2 separate regions of the Homo sapiens genome follow, and region 1 is linked to region 2. The links come from fine-mapping of genetic effects on gene expression. A gene starts in region 2. The other region holds a variant in brackets. All regions are shown on one strand. Distances are from middle to middle.

Evidence for each region. PIP is the estimated chance that this variant, and not a neighbour inherited with it, causes the effect.
Region 1: its variant is the best candidate, but not a certain one, in a credible set for the expression of RIPOR3 in esophagus muscle (GTEx, PIP 0.81).

Annotation. Positions count from the first base shown.
Region 1 is chr20:50,593,398-50,596,302 of GRCh38, reverse strand. RIPOR3 (RIPOR family member 3) reads left to right here. Exons shown (of 22, transcript NM_001290268.2): 15 at 40-163; 16 at 799-934; 17 at 1,589-1,750. Among named protein-coding and RNA genes, the nearest start is that of MIR645, 9.1 kb to the right of the region's middle. The variant C/T (reference allele first, on the strand shown) is at 1,197.
Region 2 is chr20:50,690,115-50,693,019 of GRCh38, reverse strand. It overlaps RIPOR3 (RIPOR family member 3), which reads left to right and starts at 1,478. Exons shown (of 22, transcript NM_001290268.2): 1 at 1,478-1,894. The coding sequence starts at 1,892. RefSeq lists an enhancer at 395-2,905.

The DNA.
Region 1 (2,905 bases), 97 kb after region 2:
GCTAACTGGAATGGTCACCCAGTTCTCAATTCAACTCAGAAAGGACCGGCCCCTGCCCCCACCGTCATCACTGAAAGCGTCATCCAGGGAACTCACAGCCGGTGCCCCAGAGCTGGACGTGCTGCTGATGGTACACCTCCAAGTCTGCAAAGCTCTGCTGCAGGTGGCTGGGCTAGGGGACTTGTCAGGGAGGGGCAGACAGGGGTTTGGAGTCCTCTTTGCAAAGGCTCATCTTGAAGGTGGTGGGAAGCATGAAGGGGTGACAGACCTGCATCCTGGAAGCCCGTGAGACTGAAGCTATTCCCCAGTGGAAGAGAGGCAGACCAGGGTCTGGGTGAATACTCGTGTGGCTCTTACACAGGCCAAGCCCTAAACCAAAGGCTTTGGTGGTGACTCTCATTTATAGGTGCCAGAACCCTAATGCAAACTGGCTCAGCCAACAGGAAAATTTATCGGCTCATGGTACTGAAAGCCTCAGAGGTAGGCTTCAGGCTCGGCTGGATGCACGGGTTCAAATGCTATCAGGACTAGGTCTCTCTCAGTTCTGCTTTGCAATGTGGGTTGGCTTCACTTTCAGGCAGGTTGGTCCTCCTTCTGGGGGCAAAGGTGGTCCCTGGCAGCCCAGCCTGCATCCCATTAGCTCAGCCACCTTGGTGAAAGGGGAATCCCCAAATGACAGTCAGGGAGCTGCCCCCGGGACAGAAGAGATGGGCACAAGCAGGTGGGAGCCACAGCCGTAACAGCTGACCTCGGTGGGCATGTTCCATGCTAATCTGGAGCATCTGGGCTGCTTCCCAGAAACTGGCCTCCCCTAATTTATCAAGGCTGGTCCAGGAATGCCTCCTGGAAGAAGTGGCACAGCAAAAGCACGTTCTGGAGACACTTTCTGTCCTTGACTTTGAGAAGGTCGGCAAGGCAACATCCATTGAAGAGAGTAAGTAGCTGCCTGCCACCCAGGGGCTGCCTATGTGAGCGGCACGGGGACGGGATCAAAGCTCGGGGAGCCTCTTCTGCCTTCCTAATAGCCAGAGTTAATCGGGGCCCAGAGTGGAGGCTGTGGCTGGGCTGGGCTCAGAGATACACACTCTTTGTGGGGAGGTAAGGGAGACAAGTCCTGGAGTTGCAGCACACTCTTCAGTCAGCTGTGTGACTCTAGGCAAATGATTCACATCTCTGAGCCTCTGCTTCCCTATCTG[C/T]ATAGGAGGAGGGCACTGCACGGGGTTCAGTGAGGTAACCCCAGGCCACATTCAAGGTGCAGAATGTGCCGTCAAACAGTAGCTGTGATCCCAGCTGTGCCTCTGCCCCGTGGGACCTCCCCTCAGAAGGCCAGGTTCCTTGTCTGTAAGGAGAGGCTGGTGACAGCAGCCCCTCCCAGGTTGTTGTGGGGACTGCAGGTGGTGGCCCTGGTAAGATGCTTAGAGCCAAAGTTGCTCACGTGTCACATGGGAATGCAGGGAAGGGACCTCGCATCAAGCCACACCGTCCCCTCCTCCCTACCCCCTCAGGTCCTAGTGGAGGGAAACCTTTCGGGTCCTTGTCATGTGCTCTCCCCGAGTCACCATTCAGGTTTCTGAACTGGGGCTTTCAGTCATCCCACAGGCCTCGCGGACGAAGGGGTGCCTGAAGCTGTGGAGAGGGTGCACAGGGCCTGGCAGGGTCCTGTCCTGCCCTGCCACGACGCTGCTGAACCAGCTCAAGAAAACCTTCCAGCACAGAGTCAGAGGGAAGTACCCAGGACAGCTGGAAATAGGTGGGTTCCCTTCTGTCCTGTCGTCCCCTCCCACAGAAAGGCTGTATTGAGTCTCCAGGGCCTTCAGGGTGGCCACAGCTGGCCTCATTTCAGCCCTGTCTTCACCTCTGTGTCTTCATGCCATCGGACGGAGGAGCTTTCTCAGCTTCAGTGCGAGTCACCGCCCTTTCACCGGGCGAGAAGGGGCCTCCACGTGGGGCCTTCTGAGCAGTCTGTGGAGCCCTGAAGCTGCGTGCAAACTTGGTGGGCCGGTGCATTTTTTTTTTTTTTTTTTTTTGAGATGGAGTCTCACTCTGTCGCCCAGGCTATAGTGCTGTGGCACAATCATGGCTCACTGCAACCTCTACCTCCCGGGTTCAAGCGATTCTTCTGCCTCAGCCTCCCGAGTAGCTGGGATTACAGGTGTGCACCACCACGCTTGGCTAATTTTCTTTTTTTGTATTTTTAGTAGAGACGGGGTTTCGCCATATTGGCCAGGCTGGTCTCGAACTCCTGACCTTGTGATTCGCCCGCCTCGGCCTCCCAAAGTGCTGGGATTACAGGCATGAGCCACTGCGCCCGGCCGCCAGAGCATTTTTCTGGGGACAGATTCCATGCCTCCCACCAGAGCCTGACGGGTAAAGAATGAACCTTATGGGAAGGGAGGCAGGCAGGGGCCCACGAGGGTATCTAGAAATGCTGGCTGGACTGCGTTCTTCCCCAGAATTTGCCTTTCTCTGTGGAGCAAGTGAAAGGTGACAGTCATGTTCCAAGCACCACCTGGACTGCTTGTTGACATGCATATTCCCAGGCCCTGCCTCCGGGATTTTGATCCAGGTGTGGTGTGGGGCCCAGGGCATGGGGATGAACCCAACACGGTCTGACTCAGGGTGAGTTGGAGTCACAGTCCTGACTCTAGCTGGGCACACTCCTCCCCTACAGCACAGGGAATGCAGTGAGGGACACCTGCCCTCGTGCCATCAGAAACCCTTTTTTTTTTTGAGATGGGGTTTCACTCATGGTTGCCCAGACTGGAATGCAGTGGCGCAATCTTGGCTCACTACAACCTCCACCTCCCGGGTTCAAGCGATTCTCCTGCCTCAGCCTCCAGAGTTGCTGGGAAACAGGCAGGCACCACCACACCCAGCTAATTTTGTATTTTTAGTAGAGATGGGG
Region 2 (2,905 bases):
CTGGTCAACATAGTGAGACACCATCTTTATTTTTAAAAATAAAAAAATAAGAAAAAAAAGTACCTTGCTGCCTCATCCCAACCTGGGAAACATGGCAAGACCCTGACTCTACAAAAAATGTTTTAAAAAAATTAGCCAGGCATGGTGGGTCACGTCTCTGGTCCCAGCTGCTTGGGAGGCTGAGGCAGGAGGATTGCTTGAGCCCAGCAGATGGAGGTTGCAGTGAGCTGAGATCACACCACTGTACTTCAGCCTGGATGACAGACAAGGCCCATTGTCAGGAAACAAAAAACAAAAAACCGCTGCCTGATGTACCATATCTTTCACATCTTGTTCAAGCAGTCATTATTGGATGAGCATTTCAGTTATTTCCCATCATTTCCTATGATAAGCAGCTCTCAGCAAGCATCTCTGTGCCTGTCTCCTGTGCACAGGCATAAGTAGTAGGAGACCCTCATCTCTGGTTTTCAGAGGTCTTTGCCAAATTACCCTTCAGAGTCTGTGTGTGTGCTTTAATGGGGAGGGGTGTCCGTTCCTGTTCTTTGGTGCTGTTTATTTCTGGTTTCTTTTCCACACTAGCTGCAGAGTGGAAAGGAGCCAAGGCGAGGGAGAGAAATCTGTCTCTAGGTGTTCCAAGGCCCTGGATGTGCCACAGGGCTGGCCTCCCCTCCGGAGGCGGTAAATGGCTGCTTTGTTCTTGGGTCCGTCCCTGAGCAGAATCAGGACGCAGAGATGTGTCAAGTGGACAAAAGAAATTGTGCACATCACCAAGCCTGGATCCCACCCCTTGACCTGGAGAAACTGTTAACTTTGTAGGAGTCGCACACACACCAGTGTGACTGGGCAAGGGGCGAGCGCCCACCCCGAACCCTGAAATAATTAAGTTATACAAAAGAAAAAAAAACATAACAAAAGAGCCTGACCCTCACTAATGGATGTAAAGGAAAGAACCAAGCTGACTCTCAATCTAGGAGAAGTGGGAGGCGCAAAGGGGGAAAGGGGCTTGGGGGAAACCCAGGACGGAAGGAAGGGGTGTGCAATGGATCAGATCTGGACTGAAGAGGCGGACAGATGGGAAAGGGGAAAGAAAGGAGGGAAAGGAGAAAGAGTGAGGAAGGGGCTGGAGGAAAGTGACAAGGTAAGAAGAGGAAGGAGAGGGCTGGAGGAGGGAGGGGGTGGCCAAGAGCAGTTTAGGAGGGGTAGGCTGCGTCCCAGTCTGTTTGTGATTAGCACGCAGCCTGGTGCAGAATGGAGTAAACAGAAACTTCCAGGCGTCCCCTCCGCCCCTCTCTGAGGCAAAGCAGAAATCAGATGCTCTGTGATTAATCGTGGAGGATTCAGGACACGACCACAAACGCTGTGCGGACTTGAAATTAGCTGCCTTTTCCCAGTCCCCTTGCCAAAATGGGAGTGGGGGGTGGGACGTGAAGGGGTGGGGGCCCCGCCTGCTGGGGGCCAGCATGGAATTCCCCCCGGCAGAGCTGGGAGTGACACTGACAAGCAATCGGCCGCGTCCAGAGCAGCAGGCGGCATCCGGGGGGAGCGGGGCCGGCTGGGGGGCCCCAGGAGGGCTTCCTGGAACCCCAGCTCCATGGCCGCCTGCACCCTGACACAGGCCAGATAAGAGTCCCGGCTGCATTATCAGAGCCCGGCAGGGCACCGGCCTCCCTGCACCAGAAGGAAGACTCGGGGCGCAGCAGGTCCTCAAGGCGATCTTCCCAGAGAGCGGGACCAGCGGCTGGTGGCCAGTGTGGATGGAATTTGCAGAGCCCTAGCTCGAGTCCGGGAGTCCCGGGCCAGATGGGAGCAGACGCTTGCTGGCGGCAATAGGGAAAGTGAGGCAGCTGCAAGGAGGGCGGCGGGACTGCACTCGAGTGTCCAGACCTGCTCGATGGTGAGTGTGAAGTGACTGCTCCCCATGTGTGCCGTGACGCCGCCTTGTGTGGACAGACTTCTGGAGCTGGGGGTGACAGGAGGAGGCAGCCGTTCCTCACAGGCCACCTGGAGCTCCCAAGGCCGGAGGAGGGAACCTGGGTTGAGGCTGAGATGGGATGGCGGTATCGTGCTGTGTGGCCTTAGGCAAGTTATTTGCCCTCTGCAGGCCTCCATTTGTCCGTTTCTAAAACAGTGGTTGAACTAGGTGATCTTTAAGAGATTCTCATGATGACAGCTATTCCTTGTGTATCTGCTATACGCCAGGCACTGTGTAGGCATTTTTGAAGCGTCGGCTCGGGAAATCCCGGTAAGCCCCCTGCAGGGTAAGTATTATTGGTGTCCTCATTGTACCCTGAGGAAACAGCAGCTGGGCGAAGTGAAGTGACTTGCTGAGGTCACACAGCCGGTCAGTGGCAGAAACGAAAAAAGACCTAGGTTTTTCTGACTTGCTTTGGCTAAACTCTCCTGTACACCCCCAGTATTCTGTATTCTGTGCTCCATGGTTCTGCAATTATCCCAAGCAGCAGGGGTGAAGGAGAAGGAGGTATGGATGGAGCATTACCTGCAGGAAGGAGGCAGAGGTGGGACAGAAGGAGTGACAGGCTGACACTGGCAAGCAGCCTTTTACTCTCTAAAGGATGTGTCAGCCCAGGGTGGAGGCTGGCTGCCCTGGGATGGGGCAGGGGCTCCAGGCTTGAACGAAGAGTGCCCAGTGCAATTTCCTAGATTTGCTGCCTTGTCGTAGGAGGCTCCTGGGGGCATGAGAGAAGAGGGTTAATATGTCAGAGGTGGAGAGAGCTGGGGGCAGGGAGACTGGCATATGCCTCAACTAGGTTTTGTTCCAATTTTATTTTGCCTTTGCAGAAAATCTGTTTCGAATCACTCTGGGCCCGTGCAGTGTTTTTGGATGAAACAGAATTGTGAAACGCATACAGCGCTTTCCACATGCCTCCCCTGGGGGGAATCACAT